Linked DNA regions of Homo sapiens: all the other regions are linked to region 1. Evidence: fine-mapped expression QTL. A gene starts in region 1. Each other region holds a variant in brackets. All regions are shown on one strand. Distances are between the middles of the regions. Region 1 holds the start of FOCAD (focadhesin). Region 2 has its middle 21 kb from the start of FOCAD. Region 3 holds the start of MIR491 (microRNA 491). Region 4 overlaps FOCAD (focadhesin). Region 5 has its middle 28 kb from the start of FOCAD.

Evidence for each region. PIP is the estimated chance that this variant, and not a neighbour inherited with it, causes the effect.
Region 2: its variant is fine-mapped to the expression of FOCAD in fibroblasts (GTEx, PIP above 0.99).
Region 3: its variant is fine-mapped to the expression of FOCAD in whole blood (TOPMed, PIP above 0.99).
Region 4: its variant is fine-mapped to the expression of FOCAD in whole blood (TOPMed, PIP 0.96).
Region 5: its variant is fine-mapped to the expression of FOCAD in whole blood (TOPMed, PIP above 0.99).

What each region holds. Positions count from the first base shown.
Region 1 is chr9:20,682,647-20,686,692 of GRCh38, reverse strand. It overlaps FOCAD (focadhesin), which reads right to left and starts at 2,434. Exons shown (of 44, transcript NM_001375567.1): 1 at 2,400-2,434. FOCAD-AS1 (FOCAD antisense RNA 1) reads left to right here and starts at 1,943. Exons shown (of 2, transcript NR_121601.1): 1 at 1,943-2,125; 2 at 3,152-3,391. RefSeq lists an enhancer at 1,992-2,732 and a silencer at 2,132-2,831.
Region 2 is chr9:20,660,871-20,664,923 of GRCh38, reverse strand. It overlaps a transcript of FOCAD not described here. Among named protein-coding and RNA genes, the nearest start is that of FOCAD, 21 kb to the left of the region's middle. The variant C/A (reference allele first, on the strand shown) is at 2,274.
Region 3 is chr9:20,714,076-20,718,075 of GRCh38, reverse strand. FOCAD (focadhesin) reads right to left here. Exons shown (of 44, transcript NM_001375567.1): 2 at 2,666-2,754; 3 at 208-282. The coding sequence starts at 2,722. It overlaps MIR491 (microRNA 491), which reads right to left and starts at 1,971; the gene lies at 1,888-1,971. The variant T/C (reference allele first, on the strand shown) is at 1,825.
Region 4 is chr9:20,756,459-20,760,458 of GRCh38, reverse strand. It overlaps FOCAD (focadhesin), which reads right to left. Exons shown (of 44, transcript NM_001375567.1): 6 at 2,268-2,369. Among named protein-coding and RNA genes, the nearest start is that of SNORA30B, 28 kb to the left of the region's middle. The variant A/T (reference allele first, on the strand shown) is at 2,152.
Region 5 is chr9:20,654,002-20,658,054 of GRCh38, reverse strand. It overlaps a transcript of FOCAD not described here. Among named protein-coding and RNA genes, the nearest start is that of FOCAD, 28 kb to the left of the region's middle. The variant C/A (reference allele first, on the strand shown) is at 2,490.

The DNA.
Region 1 (4,046 bases):
TACTTACTACCCACTTGATCAAAATTTAAATTATCACCCTAATTTTCTTTTTGTGCTTAAACCAAGTTCTTTGTTATACATCAAGAAATACTGATTAAGATCAAGATTTGTTATAGACTAATAATCCTTAAACTATTATTTCCTTACACTTCCTCCAAATATAGTTATTATTTCTCATTGTGGTTTTTTCCCGCTAGAAGGTTAATGTCCTCAGCTCTTGAATTTTCCCCATTAACCTTGCAATCTTGATCAGGTCCATTTCTAGAACTGAAAGATGTAACACCAACGCGGAGGGATCACTTGAGGTCAGGATTTCGAGACCAGCCTGGCCAACATGGTGAAACTCCGTCTCTACTAAAAATACAAAAATTAGCTGGGTGTGGTGGCATGCGCCTGTAATCCCAGCTACTTAGGAGGCTGAGGCAGAAGAATCACTTGAACCTGGGAGGCGGAGGTTGCAGTGAGCCGAGATCGCAGCACTGCACTCCAGCCTGGGCGACAGAGTGACCCTGTCTCCAAACAAACAAAAAAATAGCAAATGCAAAATTTTAAGAAGTTATATTTTCTTAAATTTTCCAAACTCCTAATAGTGATATTAACAATTTAATTCAACTAATCACTTGTGGACAATATCCCAAAAGTATCATGAAGCTAAGAATATTATGTCTCAGACTGTTTCATAAATCATTTTAAACGGGGAAAAAGGCCAAACGATTTACCGGTAAGCACCATCAATCAATCAACAAATGAAAAACTCTGGTTATACGTCCATGAAAATTTTGATTTCAAACTATTTATTACAGGGCGCGAGGCTGTGTTCCGCCTCCTCCAGCTCCTCCTGATAACCTTTTGGTTATCAGGCGTCAACTGGAGACAACAATCAGTTAAAATCCAGTAAATTTGGGGTTAATGAAACAAATGTTAAAATAGATATAATATTGATAAACATTAGCCAAGAGATGGTAACTACCTAACATTGATTAAGTAAGCAAATAATCAAGGCAGAGGTTTTAGCTTCCACTAATCTATAAAAGCAAGTGAAAATGCTTTGAAAATTGCATTTTTATGCAATTGTTTCAATATCATACCTTTGTATGTAACATTAAAAAGCTCATGATTACTTCATTTCAAAATTCAGATGAGTCACAGTGCTTTCTACGCAGGAATTGGATGTGAATCAAAATTGTAAACATGCACTTGCTTGGTAGTCAAAAAGTGAATGTGGACAGATACAATGTTCGTTGACACAGTAAAACATAATCATAAAATGCATCCTGTGTTTTTAAAATAGTTACTTCCTGTTAACACAGTTCAGGAAACATGCCATCTACCCTCCTCTCCTGGAAAATCTCAAAATTATACTAATCCCATTCCTCTTCTTACAGATAGGCCACTGAAACCTGGAGTCATTACTGATACAGTTATCAGGATTACACCCTCAGAGCCACGATGGTTTCAGGGATACTAGAACCTGAAAATAACAAAAAAAAAAAAAATTTCCAACTCAAATCTAGACAATAAAACTAACATATAAACTGGAATAAAACGCAGGAAATGCCGATTTTAATACCTGGTATGAGGCTGACCATTAAGGCATCCATCAAAAAAGTTTGGAATGTATGAATGAATGACTGCATGAAATTGGCAGGATTTCATTCATTTCAAAAGCTCCAAATTCAGGAACCACACTGAGATATCAGGACGCCACAGCTGAAACTAAAACTCATGAAGGGTAAATGCAACATAACTGCACGTCTCCACGCGTTAGCTGCTGCGAAAATTTCAAAACATACATCTAACATACTCTTTCTTCAAGTAATTGCCGCAAGTGCGGACGGAGCCAGAGAACTAGGAGACTGAAAACAGGCCCTGCTCACCCATAAGCCTTTGCATTATAAGTGGACATGATCTGAGTGAGTCACCGGGAATGAGAAGGAGACAGTCACCCCAGGCCAGGCAGGACGCGGCCAGAATCTCCTGCTCTGCCCCCAACTAGGGAACCGGTCGAAGGAGAGTGGGACGACTGCAACCTGCTGCAGCTAAGTATGCAAGGATCGCGCCGACCGGCTTCCGAGTCGAGATCCCACTAAGTCCCACCGCAGTCACCACAGCCAGCCCTGCCCAGGTATCTCGGAGCTCCGTAACCTCAGAAGGCCTAGTCCTCCAGAAGCTGAGAGCCCCAGCAGGACCGGACGAGGGCAAAAAGCCCCCTCCCGGCTGCCCCTCGCCGCGACGCGGCCCTGCCGCCACATGCTCCACTGCCCCGTCTCCCAGCTCAGCCCCAGCCCCGCAGGGCCTCAGCCGCCCTCCATGCAAGCCGACCGGGCCGCAGGCGGCGCGACCCGGCGGCTCCCGAGCAGGGGTGCAGCGGTGGCAGCCCGCCGCCCCGCACGGCTTACCTCCCTTCTGCCACAAGCTCAGCCCAGCGCCGGCTGCCTGACGTGGCCCGCCCCGCCGCCTCGAACGCCCGGGGGCGGGGACTGCAGGAGAGAGCCAATGGGCTGCATATCGCGAGGCCCTGTTCCGCCTCCTCCGGCTGGGGCCCGCCCTCCCCGGCTCGCGCGCACGCGCGTCTAAGGCCCGGGCCGCGCACTGCGGTTGAAAGGCGGCGTGGGCGGCGGACCCGCGCTCTGCAGCCGAGCTGGTGCGGGGAGGGCTGCGCGCGGGGGCTGGCTGTGGAGCAGCACCGCAGTGAGGAGTTAGCCCAAGGAAAATCAGATTAAAGGAAACTGCCTAGAGATGCCACTGCAGCGTGCCCGGGTAGTCCTGTTGGCAGCCTGCCCCTATGCAGCTTTTGGCAATACAGAACAGCTTCTTGGTATTTGGAGATTTTGTTTCTCGGGGGAAATAAATAATACTGATAACATTAAGGATTCAGAAAATTTAAAGCAGACAGCCGACTTGCCGCGAAGACGCTTCGTTCTTCGCCTAATAGCTACTTGGTGTCTTTACTTCATTTGGCCAACACATAACACTGCAGCTCTCCACGCCACTGTGGTATATCCACTTGTTAGATAGTCCTGAGGTAGTTCTAGCCCAAGTGTTTCTGCTGATCTAATCTGGGGGGAATTGGCGCGAGTAATTATTCTGTTACGATTTTGCGCAATACTTACTGAATGATAAACATGTATTTTCTCGTGGGGCGGGGCAGGGGCTCCCACGTGAGAAGGCTGTAACAGACAGACAGCAGCCACGATGAAACACGCTGAAAAGAGCCAGCAGAAAAAAACGAGGAGAGACTGGTATGACGGAGTGGAATTCCGGTTGTGGATGACAGAATGGAAATTTTACGCAAGATGAAAGAGTTAAGACAAATTACTCTAAAAATATCTGACTTAGTTGTTTCTAAACCCTGGGGCACCCTTAGGAAAAAATAAAAATAAAAAAACAAGTGCCTGGGCCTCATCACTTGGTTGAAAAAGGTCTGCTGCCAGATCTTGACATTGATATTTTTCTAAGTTTCCAAAGTCATTTTAATGTGTAGACAAGAAGTTCTGTTTCTCATTTGTAGGAAGAATTTGGTTCCCCATCACCTCAGAAAAGTAATTATGTATCACAGACCGTTAACAGTTTTCCCAATAACCAACTATGCATTCACCCTCTAAGAATTTATCTAAATTAATCTTGGGGCCAGGTGGGGGGGCTCACACCTGTAATCCCAGCACTTTGGGAGGCCGAGGAGGGCGGAGTTCAAGACCAGCCTAGGCAACGTGGTGAAACCCCATCTCTACTAAAAAAAACATACAAAAATTAGCCCGGCGTGGGGTTGCGCGCCTGCAGTCACGGCTACTCTACTCAGGAGGCTGAGGCAGGAGAATCGCTTGAACCCGGGAGGCGGAGGTTGCAGTGAGCCGAGGTGGCGCCACTGCACTCCAGCCTCTGATGGAGTGAGACTGTCACAATCAATCATTCAATCAATCAATATTGAACCTACTTAAAGTTATTCAACCTCTGTTATCCTTTGCTTCAAAGGAGTTTTATAAGGCTTATAATTCCCTTTTTATGGACTTTGATGATACTCTCTTTCAGTCTTCCAAATGCACCAG
Region 2 (4,053 bases), 22 kb after region 1:
ACCAAAAACTGGTATTTTGAAAAATAGTTTTATTGAGGTAAATATGACATACATTAAACTTTATGTATTTAAAGTATACAATTTAATAAGCTTTGACACATGTATAAACTCTTGAAACCATCACCATTATTAAGATATCACCCTGGGCCGGGCACAATGGCTCACGCCTGTAATCCCAGCACATTGGGATGCTAAGTCAGGAGGATTGCTTGAGGCCAGGAGTTTGAAACCAGCCTGGTCAACAAAGCGAGACCTCATCTCCATGAGAAAAAAAAAAAAAAAGAAAGGAAAGAAAAGAAAAGAAAAGAAAAGAAATCACTCTGGCATTTGAAGCTCTCCACTATAAGGTTCCTTCTTTATGGGATTTATCTCTCCCTTCCTGCTTATTTGCCTTATTCCTCTTGAATATATTATAAACTTATAAACTCTTCAGAAAGACTGATGAAGCCCTACTTGTTTTTGGAGCCCTTAAAATGCTTAGTAGATAATATGCACTGAGAAATGAATAGCTCTTTCTAATTGAGGTCTGATTTGTTGAACCATTAAATAGAATCAGTATTAATTGAACTATTACTTTTTACCTCTTTTAATAAAGTAGGTGTTTCTATGGTCATACTAGATGTCAGATCACTTAGTCAATATGTCAGATCACTTAGTCAACCTTGTCTCACAAATAGATATAAATTTAATACTATAAACTATTTTTTATTTATATATGGGTCTAGAAATATAGAACTTTTTAAAAGGAAAACATATGTTATTTAAATATAGAACTTTTAAAATTAGATTTTCTGCAGAATCTTGAGGAGAAAACAGAGTTAATACATTCATTTCATTAATAATTAATAAAAACAACAATGCTGATATTTTCACTTCACTGTTGGAAAAGTGCTTTGAAATTTACTGTCTCAGTGGATCTCATTAAGACAAAATAACAACACAAAATAGGTAACTGGGAAAACAAGTTTAAAAGACATCATCCACTAGTGATTTACTTCATGACATTAATAAAGAATAGAAAGAAACATAATCCCTACATGTTTATTTGTTCAAGTATGAAGATTGGGAGAAAATATCATATAAAGTACACTTTGTAAGGATACTTGAGATGGTTTTTACAGAAAATGTGTTTTAGAGAAATGGAAAATGCAGAAGTCTGAAAAGGAAAGTCTTTCAGAAAATACTGTGATACGTGAAGCAGTCTCAGGCTTGAGGTTACGTATTGTTTTCCTCACACAAGAATTTTAAAAGCATTCTGGTACCATTATTGAAGTGGCAACTATATTGAATTCTTTGAAAAGAGGGCCCATGTCTTAGAATTGTTTTTGATGCATAGCATTTAATAAAATGTCTATTAAGTGATTAAGGATAGATGATAGATTGGAAGATTGCAAACATAGTCATAAACTGTGTGTATGTGTGTGTGTGTGTGTGTGTGTGTGTGTGTGTTCATGCACACATGCATACATGTAGTAGGTAATATGGACCGCTGATAGAAATATTTCGTTAAGGAAAAGAGTGCCTCTTAATTTTTTATATTATTTATTTGTTTGCTTGCTTGTTTTTTCAGACAGGGTCTTTCCCTGTCACTCAGGCTGGAGTGCAGTGCATGATCACAGCTCACTGTAACCTCAAACTCCTGAGCTCAGGAATACAGACATGTGCCACCATGTCTGACTAATTTTTTGTTTTTTATTTTTTTGTAGAGGCAGTCTCACTATGTTGCCCAGGCTGGTCTCAAACTCCTAACTTTAAGCAATCCTCCCACCTCAGCCTCTCAAAGAGCTGGGATTACAGGCATGAAGCTATCACACCCAGCCTAATTTAATTTGCAAACATAGCCACTGTTCCTTGATATTATCAGAAGTAAAAAACCTTTTGTTTTATAGTTTGTTTACTGAGAATAAGATACATTATAAGTGTTACTGTTAAAACTGTAACTTTAAAAGGTTATATTGAAATACATTAGACTCAAGACAACTGGATACAAATAATTTTCTATTATGTTATTTGAATTATTCCTTTAAGTTTAAATGTCTTGATTTTTCTATTAAGTATACTATGCATTGAAAACTAAATCTTTAGAATGTTATCAAAATATATTCCTGACTCTTCCAAAAGCAGGCTCTGAGCCAAAGTTTGGGTTGCAAGACGTTTATCAGGGATAAATATCTGGCTGGGTGCCGTGGCTCACGCCTGTAATCCTAGCACTTTGGGAGACCAAGGCAGGGAGCCCAGGTGTTCAAGACCAGCCTGGGCAATATAATGAGACC[C/A]CCACCTCTAAAAAAAAAAATTTAAAAATAGAAATAAAAAGGTATAAATATCTGTCAAACGTGTTGGGGAGTGGGGAGAGGAAGCAGAATTGAGCAGGAAAAAAGCTGAAACCAGATGCAGGCTGGACAAAGTCCCCAGTCACCCTGGCTGGGAGCTTAGGAGGCTAATATTGCCCTTCGGAGTTGTCCCAGACTAAAATGTCCCAGTCTTTATTCCCTTGCTTCTCTCAGTCACCAAATGTAAGCTGCCTTGGGAAGGGCATGACTTTGGCTAAGATGGCTCTTTACCCCCGAGGCTGACCCTAAAGGAGCTGACAGCTGGAGGCTTTTGTGCAGACTACGTTCTCCACAGCTGGGCAGTAATTAATTCCTTGTAATGGGATCTGGACTGTGCATCTCCATGGCTATCACAATGTAGCTTGTAATTATACACACACACACACACATATATGCACACACACACACATATATTTCCACTTTATGTTTAGCAACACAGCCACATTTAAAAAATAAAAACAATATAAAAAGTTTACTGTGAAATCATGTCCCATCCACTACTTGTAGATATTTTCAGTAGTTCTTTGTGCAACTAAGGCAAATATCATACATATTCATAATTCCCCATTTTTCATAGACAAAAGGTGCATACTCTACCACTGTTTTGTACCTTGCCTTTTTTTCACTTAATCTTGGTTATCTTTTCATGTCAATATATAAAGAATTTCCTCATTCTTTCTTTTACAGCAGCATTTTTTGATGGCCATTTCAGAGGTTTCCAAGCTTTTACTAATAACAGTGGTGCTTTTGCCCACATCATTTTGTACCTGCCTAAGTATATCTGTAGGATAAAGTGACAGAAGTAGAATTTCTGAGTCTAAGTGTAAATGCCTTTGTAATCTGGTATTACTGAATTAACTTCCATAGGGCTTGCAGCAATATGTACTCAATGTATCCTATGTTTAGCAATATGAAAATTAGACACAATGGCTGATTTTCTAAATATTGACCTCTTTTTCCCAGTGTGACAAAATGTAAAACAGTAGGAAGAGAGATAGTGAGAAAAAGAAGGACACTGAGAATATCTCAGTTTAACAGTTCCCTCTTAGACTTTAATTACCTGCCTAGTCTGTGCTCCTTGGCCCATCAAGTGAACAACTGCCTCCCAACCATTTAAATTCCCTCATTTTTAACACCTCCCTTTCCCCACTCCTCACAACCAAGTCAGGTTTTTCTATCACAGCCTGCTGCAAAACCCAGTCTTGAGACAATCTTATAATACATGTTGTCTACTCTTCCTCCTACAGAACTCAGCACATTGGAGACTATCATACATCTTTAAGTGGTGCTGACACTACAATTTCAATGTTTCTCCTGTCTATTGAGCCCTTCATGCTACTTCTCAGTCCTTTTACTAGTCTTTGGTTGTCTCCCAACCCATTCTCCTCTACCACATTTTTCAGATAACTTTGCTTCCGTACTTCTCAGAGAAGACCAAGAACATCAGAGTGAATGCCATCATTTTCAGTTGCCATTGCCAAACATCTCCACAGCCTCCTTAGCTCTCCAGCTGTGCTCTTAATTCTACTTCTCTAATTTCTCTAAAACATCCCTTCTCAAATTATTCCTCTCTGTCTTAAACCTCCCCTCTTCTGCTGACTCCTTTCCCGTGGTCTATGAACATGTTCAACCACTCCATTTTAATCACAGTCTTGTCATGGAATGTCCCCATAATTTTTGCCCAAATTGCTCTCTCTCTCTCTCTTTCTCTTTGACTGTCTGC
Region 3 (4,000 bases), 31 kb before region 1:
CCTAGAGGGTTTTAATAAATTTAAAACTTTTTTATTGCTATATATTAAAAAGGCAAACAAATAAACAAAAAAGGCAATGAAGTTCTCACAGTTCAAAAGCATTTCTACTGTGATCTGAACTATCAGGGAAACAAGACAGGTGCATATGTGATCCAGCTAGTAGCAATCTTATCTGAAGAGAATTAAAGCATAAAGTTAAACACAGACCTGATTTGTAGATTGGTGAATCTTTTCTGAAAAACCATTTTCCTTTAGGACTGCAGCAATAAGATGACCCACAGCCTTAAAAAGAAATAAAATTAATGAACACAGTCCCTTAGAAGTTCTTTCCAAATATCAATACTAGTTGATATGAGTATGCCAGGCAGTCAATTAGGATTAAGTAAAATTCCCATTAACTAAGTGTGTGCTATGTAGAAGGCATTGAATTAGGCACTCCACATGCACAATTTCTAATCTTCAGAATAGCCCTCAAGGTAGGCATATCTATCCCAGGTTACCAATAAGCAACTATAGTGCATAGAGGTTAAGAAAACTGCCAGATTTTTGGTTCAAATTGCTGTCAGTATCAGAAGATAACTTGAGATTGCTTACTCCATTAAAACATGAATGAGAAAGCCCATAGTTTTTAAAATCATCTTTGCACTGAAACGAAATCCACCATGCTTCATCACACTGTTAACGAATATGAAGAATATGTCTTAGAGCCAATAGGCTAGCAACAATCATTGCCATTCTGTGTACGGGTTGGAAACTACTTCACTATTGCTACAACTGTCCATCCTGCACTTGGGACCAAATTACGGTATAGCTGTGAATAACTGTCAGTCCTGCAAAGTCTCCAGAACAGCTCAAATAAAAACACAGCACCCACTCCTTCCTCATTTTTCTCTTTGTATTTCACACATTGGAACTGATTTAAGACCGTGGTGCTTGTGGTCTAGTTTTGTGATATAAGTCACTCATTTACATGAATATTAAGTTTAGTCCAACTTACTGTCTCTTATCTCCTAGTAAAAGGAATAGTAATAAGAACTGAGCACCCATGGATAGGTTGAGCTCCTGTTTTACAAAACATACCATATTTCATTGAATGGAACTGACCAGGAATTGCAAGTTGCACCATTATACTGTGTGCCACTAAGAAAGAAAAAAGGCTGCCAATTAGTCTATGATATACAGTGCTTCTTATAAGTCGGAATTTTGGTTTTATAGTCACACAAGAGTTCTTTTAGACTCGTGTAGAAAATCATGCCCAAGTTCACAAATGTGCAGGCAATACCAACTGTATCTCAACTGCTGCCATCAATTACTAGAGGCAATCCAATTTCAAAGATGTTAAAATCTGAAAAAAAACGTGTGTGAATCAAAGAAATATGGTGCTAACATCGAGCAGTGGTTACAGAAGAACAATAAGAAATATTTGCAAAGGACAGGACACAATCACAAGAACCTAATAAAACTAATATGAAACACAATAGGGACAAAGAAAAAGCTATAGTTCATATCTAGAAAAAGAAATAAAAGAAGAGAAGCTTAATTCCCCATTCCCCACCAGGTTGAATTTATCTAATATACTTTTCACTTCATCTTCTAACAAATCAGAGATACTAGCCTAAACTGATTTTTTAAAATACAAAACCCAAGGATAAATCAGCCTACATTGCTACTTAAGTGTTCTATAACAGAATTCAAATAGCCATCCTACACTAAACAATATAAATATATATATATATTTTTTTCACCTAATTTAACAGTAACACGTATGGGCATTTCTTGATTATCTATGTTAACAAAGAGACTCCAGGCACAGAAAAATAAAAC[T/C]GTGAATAGTATCCTCCAAGCCTTCATCTTCTTCTTCATGGTAAGGACCTGCAGGATATGACTCCAACCCAGCCAGGTAGAAGGGAATCTTGCATAAGGAGTGTTCTACTCCTCATGGAAGGGTTCCCCACTACCCAGCTAAGTCAATTCCCACAGCAGACATCTCCGAAGTTAATTGTTGAAAGTATCCAAGGTGCTGTATGTTGTTAAGTCTTCAAGATGGCTTCTGCTGGTCTGTTAGCTTTACTCTCACAAGAAAAGACAATAAGCTATTATGATACCTTGATTAACCAGAATGTTTCTAGTTAGCTAAAGGCTACCCAGAAAGCCATCTTTGTTTTAACTATTTAATTATTGAAAAGCTCTTTAAAGTTATCACAATCTTCTATCTTAGTAGATATATCAAATTTTCTAATCCAGGATATTTTACTTATTAAATATCATTATTATAAAAATCTATATAAGGGGTAGGATATGTCTTCTTAAATATTAATCCCTCATACTCTTCAGACATATAACTGTTTACCTCTGTTCCCAATAATCATAGGCCAAAAAAAACCAAACAAACATATTCAGGGGCCTACTAGTTAATCAAGGTTTTATTATCTCTAGGAAGAAAAGTATGATATATAAACAGAAGCTGAGATTGATCAATTTCAAATATTTGCTTTCCATGTCAAATATATATTTTCAAATTAAATGTATATTTAAAGTTGTTTCACAAAATATAAATCTCTACATGTAGAATAAAATATTTAATATTAAATATATAAAGTTCAGTTAAAAATCCACAGAACAGGTTTATTTGTTACCATGAGCAAAAATAAACAAACAAAATTACCTGTGATTGGATAAGAGAATTTGGAAATTCAAACCTTTTCCTGATATCATCTGACATTTTTGCTTCTCTTACATGTATGTGTGCAGCTTCTGTAACCAAAACAAAAGAATATTTGTTAGTCTTCCAACTGGTCTGAATTGGGGCTCCAATTAATTATTCCTCAAATAATGTGAATGTAATCCATTCCAAAGATAACAATGGAAATAAAGCACAGGGCTCTGCAGAGTAATCCTTGGCAAAACTTCATTGTCATCCAGCACTCAAATGTCATGATTGATAAATAAACTAAAAATGCCCAACAGCTCTTGGTTTTTCCCATGAGAGCTAATCCTGAAAAAGATGAATTTGCACTACGGAAATGAAAAAAACATCCAAAAGTTCAACCACACATTTGAAATAGAAATTAATTCTTTTGTGGATCAAAACTTATAAGGGAGAAAGAGTCAAACGGTCATAAAATTACTTCATCTATGCCTCACTTTGGCACAAGCTTTCATCTAAGCACTAATCCAACTGCTAGTGACAAGTGTGAAGCCTAGGTGAACTTTTTTCAAGAAGTATAGAAAAGACCTAGAAGTTCACACATTAAAACAGACTGTTTCCTAAAGGAGGAACAAGCAAACAATTAGCACCAACTTTTAATATTTATATCTCACTTATCATTCCTACTGGGCTCACAAGAAAAGAAAAGTGAAAGAGAGAAAGAGAGAGGAAGGAAGGAAGGAAGGAAGGAAGGAAGGAAGGAAGGAAGGAAGGAAGGAAGGAAGGAAGGAAGGCAGGCAGGCAGGCAGGCAGGCAGGCAGGCAAGCATGCAAAAGGATGGGGAAGGCAGGTGGTAAAGCAGGACCATGGAACTAATAAGAGGATTTCCTAAGGATCCCAATTTATCCCATTTCCATGAAGCACTGAACCTACCAATTACATTATTTTGAAAAACAGGGCCCTCTAGGTCACCTACTTTTACAATATAATTAAAATTAAAATTTATGTCAATAAACAGCCCTAGATTAACTTATAACAAGCAGAAAAACCAAGTTCCCTTGATCTCAAAAAACAAAGCATATTGTAATGAACTAGCAGCCTTTTCTAACTGCAGGTTGAGCAACCCTAATCTGAAAATACAAAATTCAAAATGTTACAAAATCTGAAACTTTTTGAGCACTGACGTGACACTCAAAGGAAATGCTCATTGGAGCACTTTGGATTTTCAGATTGGATTTTCAACCGGTTTAAAGTATATGCAAATAGTCCAAAAAAAAATTTTTTTTTTAAATCCAAATCCAAAACACTTCTGGTCCCGAGCATTTCAGATAAAGAATACTCAATCTGTACTTT
Region 4 (4,000 bases), 74 kb before region 1:
AACTGCGAGATGAAGATAAGAAAAGATAAAGCTGGTGAGATAGATTGGAACTGCATCATATACTAAGCCTACTATGACATATTAGATTTTATCCTATAGTCCAGGGAATTTCAAACTGTTTCAGAAACCAATCCTTTTTGTTTTCCCATAGAAAGCTTCCATAAGATATCAACAAGTAAGTGCTATGAAAACAGAGCCAAAGGGGTGGGAACATGCTCCATGCTTAGCCCATGCACTGCAAGTGCAGTTTGAAAACCACAGCCACAGAGACTTAAGCATGGGAATGATACTGTAAGATCTGCTCTCTTGATATATCCTTCTGAGGGATGTTTAGAGACTGGATTTGACCAGGACAAGACTGGAGGCAGAGACACCAGTTAGGAACAGGTGGCAAGAGCCACATCAAGAGATATTGAGGCCCTGAACCAGCGTCATGGTAGTAAGGATAGAAGAAAGGGGAGTAGCTTTGAGAGCCATCAGGAGGCCTTGGTGAAAGTACACTAACTGCACATATGGTGGCTATCTGATCCCACTTGGCAGTAATACTTTATCTCAAATGGCAGTTTTCTAATGGAGAGACTAACTCATTAGCCAGTGTCCAAGGGGAAGAACTTATCTCCTATATGTATTGTGTAGTAGCTTACTGAATTATTCTAGCCAACTTTCCTAACCACTTACCAATGCTTAACTTCCTTAATAACAGCTTTTCTCATATTCAGTATTTCAACAACCAATAAATCTGGTAGATTTTTTTCTTTTACTCTTTAAAAGAAAATAGAAAACTACAACCTGACATGAAGTCCTTGCCCATGCCTATGTCCTGAATGGTAATGCCTAGGTTTTCTTCTACGGTTTTTATGGTTTTAGGTCTAACATGTAAGTCTTTAATCCATCTTGAATTAAGTTTTGTATAAGGTGTAAGGAAGGGATCCAGTTTCAGCTTTCTCCGTATGGCTAGCCAGTTTTCCCAGCACCATTTATTAAATAGGGAATCCTTTCCCCATTGCTTGTTTTTCTCAGGTTTGTCAAAGATCAGATAGTTGTAGATATGCGGCGTTATTTCTGAAGGCTCTGTTCTGTTCCATTGATCTATATCTCTGTTTTGGTACCAGTACCATGCTGTTTTGGTGACTGTAGCCTTGTAGTATAGTTTGAAGTCAGGTAGTGTGATGCCTCCAGCTTTGTTCTTTTGGCTTAGGATTGACTTGGCAATGCGGGCTCTTTTTTGGTTCCATATGAACTTTAAAGTAGTTTTTAATGGCCTTGGGCAGTATGGCCATTTTCATGATATTGATTCTTCCTACCCATGAGCATGGAATGTTCTTCCATTTGTTTGTATCCTCTTTTATTTCATTGAGCAGTGGTTTGTAGTTCTCCTTGAAGAGGTCCTTCATATCCCTTGTAAGTTGGATTCCTAGGTATTTTATTCTCTTTGAAGCAATTGTGAATGGGAGTTCACTCATGATTTGGCTCTCTGTTTGTCTGTTATTGGTGTATAAGAATGCTTGTGATTTTTGTACATTGAGTTTGTATCCTGAGACTTTGCTGAAGTTGCTTATCAGCTTAAGGAGATTTTGGGCTGAGTCAGTGGGGTTTTCTAGATATACAATCATGTCATCTGCAAACAGGGACAATTTGACTTCCTCTTTTCATAATTGAATACCCTTTATTTCCTTCTCCTGCCTAATTGCCCTGGCCAGAACTTCCAACACTATGTTGGCACATATACACCATGGAATACTATGCAGCCATAAAAAATGATGAGTTCAGGTCCTTTGTAGGGACATGAATGTAACTGGAAATCATCATTCTCAGTAAACTATCACAAGAACAAAAAACCAAACACCGCATAGTCTCACTTATAGGTGGGAATTGAACAATGAGAACACATGGACACAGGAAGGGGAACATCACAATCTGGGGACTGTTGTGGGGTTGGGGGAGGGGGGAGGGATAGCATTAGGAGATATACCTAATGCTAAATGACGAGTTAATGGGTGCAGCACACCAGCATGGCACATGTATACATATGTAACCTACCTGCACATTGTGCACATGTACCCTAAAACTTAAAGTATAATAATAATAAAATTAAATTTAAAAAGAAAAGAAAACTACAACCTGCTCTAGGATGGTTCTTCAGGAGAAAAC[A/T]TTATAGATCAAAGCAGCTAAAAAGAAACAAACAAACAAAAAAAAACCCTAGCTCTAAAATTAGCATATACCATTCTGTCTCCCTCACTTTATTTTACACTTTTATTTTACATTACCTTTCAGGGCACTGCTGGAAAAACGCTGTCAGCTGCTGCAAAAACACTGGCCAGCAATCAGGTCTGTGTTCAAGCACAGTTATCAAAGGATGAGGATGATTTCTGAAAGACACAGAAAGTCACATGGGAACCTGTTATTCAGGACTACACATTTTCAATATCCAAATATAGCAGCAAAGAAGCCAGTACCTACCATCTAGAGACTTTTTTCACGATTCATAATTGTCACAAAATGATCACTTGCTCCATTTGTTGCAGAGTTGGTTCATCAGAACTGACTCTCCCCCCTGCCTTTTCCTAACATTTTTGCAGAAAACAAAATGGACACAGGAGCCTCAGAGATCCAAATCTGGGAATGGACTCTTCCATTTAACAGTTCTGTGACTTTGGCCAAGCTCCTGAATCCAGCAGCTCTCTCATATCCATCCCCTTGATCCTTCATTCCTAGAGGTTACAAGCCACCTCCTCCTCCTGCTACCGCTGCTCTCTTTCCAAGCCTGGTAAGTTCCATTTCCTCCAACCTTACCCGAACCCATAAGCTCTGTCTCTCCCTCTCTGTTTCCAGGTACTTCATTATTCCCATTGTATGGTTCTGCGCTTCCCCAGCATATTTAAGAATAGAAAAAAGGAAATATTCCTTCCATCTTAACAACTATCCAAACTGAAGATGCATAAAATTTCTGTTGAATGCAGATGAATCCGTTTATTTGAGCTACTTCTATTAAGATACCTAAAGAGACTATATAAAACATAAAATCTGAAATTTGAAGGATTCTCAAAGAATGGGGTTTAACCCCAAAAAAAAACAAAAAGTACAACCATGAGTTATTTTAAATAGTTCAAAAAGGCTACTCTACTAATAATTGTAAATTGGTCAGCTTTTTAAACTATTAAGTACTATACAATTTTTAGCTATTATTTATGTGGCTTTTTCCTCCAAGAAAATATTTAAATAAGATTTAAGGCTGGACGCGGTGGCTCACGCCTGTAATCCCAGCACTTTGGGAGGCCAAGATGGGTGGATCACCTGAGGTTGGGAGTTCGAGACCAGCCTGACCAACATGGAGAAACCCTGTCTCTACTAAAAATACAAAATTAGCCGGGAATGGTGGCGCATGCCTGTAATCCCAGCTACTCAGGAGGCTGAGGAAGGTGAATCACTTAAACTTGGGAGGCGGAGGTTGCGGTGAACTGATATTATGCTATTGCACTCCAGCCTGGGCAACAAGAGCAAAACTCCATCTCAAAAAAAAACATTAAAATGCTCATTGTAAAAACATGCAAACAATACAGAAATATCAATCTTTTTAGCATAAAAGGAACCACATACACGGAGCTAGTCTTTAATTTTAATATATCTCCAGCAATGATTTTTCAAAAAAGAGTAACAATCAGACCATCAGTTACACTCAGATGATTTTTTAAGATTGCCTTCATGGTGATTCTCAAAATGTGATGCCTTACTAGTAAGATCAACTGGGAACTTGTTAGAAATGCAAATTCTCAAGCCCTAGCCCAGACCTAATAAATAGCCCTGCAGGAAATTCTGATGCACTGCTATAAAGCAGTGGTTCCTATTCTTGGTTGCAAGTTAGATTAGCTGTAGAGCCCTTAATACTAATGCCCAGGTCTGTTATCTTAGACTGCTAGGAATGAAGTTTGTCCCCTAGCAATTTTTTAAAATTCTACAGGTAATTTTAATATGTTACCAGGATTCAGAACTGCTACAAGTA
Region 5 (4,053 bases), 29 kb after region 1:
CACACTGACACCTCACATGGCAGGGTATTCCAACAGACCTGCAGCTGAGGGTCCTGTCTGTTAGAAGGAAAACTAACAAACAGAAAGGACATCCACACCAAAAACCCATCTGTACATCACCATCATCAAAGACCAAAAGTAGATAAAACCACAAAGATGGGGAAAAAACAGAACAGAAAAACGGGAAACTCTAAAAAGCAGAGCGCCTCTCCTCCTCCAAAGGAACGCAGTTCCTCACCAGCAACGGAACAAACCTGGATGGAGAATGACTTTGATGAGCTGAGAGAAGAAGGCTTCAGACGATCAAATTACTCTGAGCTACGGGAGGACATTCAAACCAAAGGCAAAGAAGTTGAAAACTTTGAAAAAAATTTAGAAGAATGTATAACTAGAATAACCAATACAGAGAAGTGCTTAAAGGAGCTGATGGAGCTGAAAACCAAGGCTCGAGAACTACGTGAAGAATGCAGAAGCCTCAGGAGCCGATGCCATCAACTGGAAGAAAGGGTATCAGCAATGGAAGATGAAATGAATGAAATGAAGCGAGAAGGGAAGTTTAGAGAAAAAAGAATAAAAAGAAATGAGCAAAGCCTCCAAGAAATATGGGACTATGTGAAAAGACCAAATCTACGTCTGATTGGTGTACCTGAAAGTGATGGGGAGAATGGAACCAAGTTGGAAAACACTCTGCAGGATATTATCCAGGAGAACTTCCCCAATCTAGCAAGGCAGGCCAACGTTCAGATTCAGGAAATACAGAGAACGCCACAAAGATACTCCTCGAGAAGAGCAACTCCAAGACACATAATTGTCAGATTCACCAAAGTTGAAATGAAGGAAAAAATGTTAAGGGCAGCCAGAGAGAAAGGTCAGGTTACCCTCAAAGGGAGGCCCATCAGACTAACAGCGGATCTCTCGGCAGAAACCCTACAAGCCAGAAGAGAGTGGGGGCCAATATTCAACATTCTTAAAGGAAAGAATTTTCAACCCAGAATTTCATATCCAGCCAAACTAAGCTTCATAAGCGAAGGAGAAACAAAATACTTTACAGACAAGCAAATGCTGAGAGATTTTGTCACCACCAGGCCTGCCCTAAAAGAGCTCCTGAAGGAAGCGCTAAACATGGAAAGGAACAACCGGTACCAGCCGCTGCAAAATCATGCCAAAATATAAAGACCATCAAGACTAGGAAGAAACTGCATCAACTAACGAGCAGAATAACCACCTAACATCATAATGACAGGATCAAATTCACACATAACGCTATTAACTTTAAATGTAAATGGACTAAATGCTCCAATTAAAAGACACAGACTGGCAAATTGGATAAACAGTCAAGACCCATCAGTGTGCTGTATTCAGGAAACCCATCTCACGTGCAGAGACACACATAGGCTCAAAATAAAAGGATGGAGGAAGCTCTACCAAGCAAATGGAAAACAAAAAAAGGCAGGGGTTGCAATACTAGTCTCTGATAAAACAGACTTTAAACCAACAAAGATCAAAAGAGACAAAGAAGGCCATTACATAATGGTAAAGGGATCAATTCAACAAGAAGAGCTAACTATCCTAAATATATATACACCCAATACAGGAGCACCAAGATGCATAAAGCAAGTCCTGAGTGACCTACAAAGAGACTTAGACTCCCACACAATAATAATGGGAGACTTTAACACCCCACTGTCAACATTAGACAGATCAACGAGACAGAAAGTCAACAAGGATACCCAGGAATTGAACTCAGCTTTGCACCAAGCAGACCTAATAGACATCTACAGAACTCTCCACCCCAAATCAACAGAATATACATTTTTTTCAGCACCACACCACACCTATTCCAAAATTGACCACATACTTGGAAGTAAAGCTCTCCTCAGCAAATGTAAAAGAACAGAAATTATAACAAACTATCTCTCAGACCACAGTGCAATCAAACTAGAACTCAGGATTAAGAATCTCACTCAAAACCGCTCAACTACATGGAAACTGAACAACCTGCTCCTGAATGACTACTGGGTACATAACAAAATGAAGGCAGAAATAAAGATGTTCTTTGAAAACAACGAGAACAAAGACACAACATACCAGAATCTCTGGGACACATTCAAAGCAGTGTGTAGAGGGAAATTTATAGCACTAAATGCCCACAAGAGAAAGCAGGAAAGATCTAAAATTGACACCCTAACATCACAATTAAAAGAACTAGAAAGGCAAGAGCAAACACATTCAAAATCTAGCAGAAGGCAAGAAATAACTAAAATCAGAGCAGAACTGAAGGAAATAGAGACACAAAAAACCCTTCAAAAAAGTCATGACTCCAGGAGCTGGTTTTTTGAAAGGATCAACAAAATTGATAGACCGCTAGCAAGACTAATAAAGAAAAAAAGAGAGAAGAATTTAATAGACACAATAAAAAATGTCTTATCTCTTATGGCTATCTGTGATTAGTGATCTTTGATGTTACTCTTGCAATTGCATTGGTGCAC[C/A]ACAAACCACACCCTAGAAGACTTGAATTTAATTGAGAAATGTTGTGTGTGTCCTGATTGTTCCACGCTTCCACAGATCAGACATTCCCCCATCTCTCTCCCTTTGTTCAGGCCTCCTTATTCCCTGAGAAATAACAATATTGAAATTAGACCAATAACCCTAAGACTTCTAAACGTTCAAGTGAAAAGAAGAGTCACTCATCCCTCACTAGCAATCAAAAGCTAAAAACGATTAAGCATCTCAAAAGCCATGGTAGGCTGAAAGCTAGGCCTCTTGCATCAGTTAGCCAAATTGTGAATGCAAAGGGAAAGTTATTGAGGAAAATTAAAAAGAGCTACTCCAGTGAACACATGAATGCTAAGAAAGCAAAACAGCCTCGTTCCTGATACGGAGAAAGTTTTGGCGGTCAGGATATAAAATCAAACCAGCCACAGCATTCTCTAAAGCCAAAACCTAATCCAGAGCAAGGCTCTAACTCTCTTCAATTCTATGAAGGCTGAGACACATGAGGAAGGTGCAGAAGAAAATTTAGAAGCTAGCAGATTGGTTCATGAAGTTTAAAGAAGGAAGTCATCTTCAAAACATAAAAGTGCAAAGTGAAGCTGCAAGTGCTGATGTAAAAGTTGCAGCAAATTATCCAGATCTAGCTGAGATCACTGATGAAGGAGGAACACTAAACAACATATTTTCAGTGTAGATGAAACACCTTTCCATTGAAAGAATATGCCATCTAGAAATTTTATAGCTAAAGAGGAGAAGTCAGTGCCTTGCTTCAAAGCTTCAAAAGACAGGTTGACCCTCTTGTTAGGGGCTGATGGCTTTCATTTGAAACCAATGCATACTTACTATTCTGAAAATTTTAGGGCCCTTAAAAATGATGCTAAATCCATTCTGCCACTGTTTTATAAGTGAAATCACAAAGCCTGAATGACAGCACTTCTGTTTATAGCATGGTTTACCGAATATTTTAAGCCCCGTGTAAAGACTTACTGCTCAGGAAAAAAAAAAAAAAAAAGATTCCTTTCATCCTCACTGACAATGTACCTGGTTACACAAGAGCTGTGATGGAGATGTACAAGGAGATGAATGTTACTATTATGCCTGCTAACACGACATCTATTCCGCAGCCCACGGATCAAGAAGTAATTTCAGTTTTCAACTCTTTTATTATTACTATCGTTATTGTAAAGCTACAGCTGCCATAGATAGTAATTTGTCTGGTGGATCTCGGCAAAGTAAATTGAAAACCTTCTGGAAGGGGTTAACCATTATATATGCCATTAAGAACATTTGTGACTCATGGGAAGAGGTCAAAATATCAACATGAACAATTTAGAAAAAGTTGATTCCAACCTTCATGGGTGACTTTGAGGGGTTCAAGATTTCAGTAGAGGAAATCACTGCAGATGTGGCAGAAATAGCAAGATAACTATAATTAGAAGTGGAGCCTAGGGTCGGGTGGCTCACACCTGTAATCCCAGCACTTCGGGAGGCCGAGGTGGGCGGATCACGAGGTCAGGAGATCTAGACCATCCTGGCTAACACGGTGAAACCCCGTCTCTA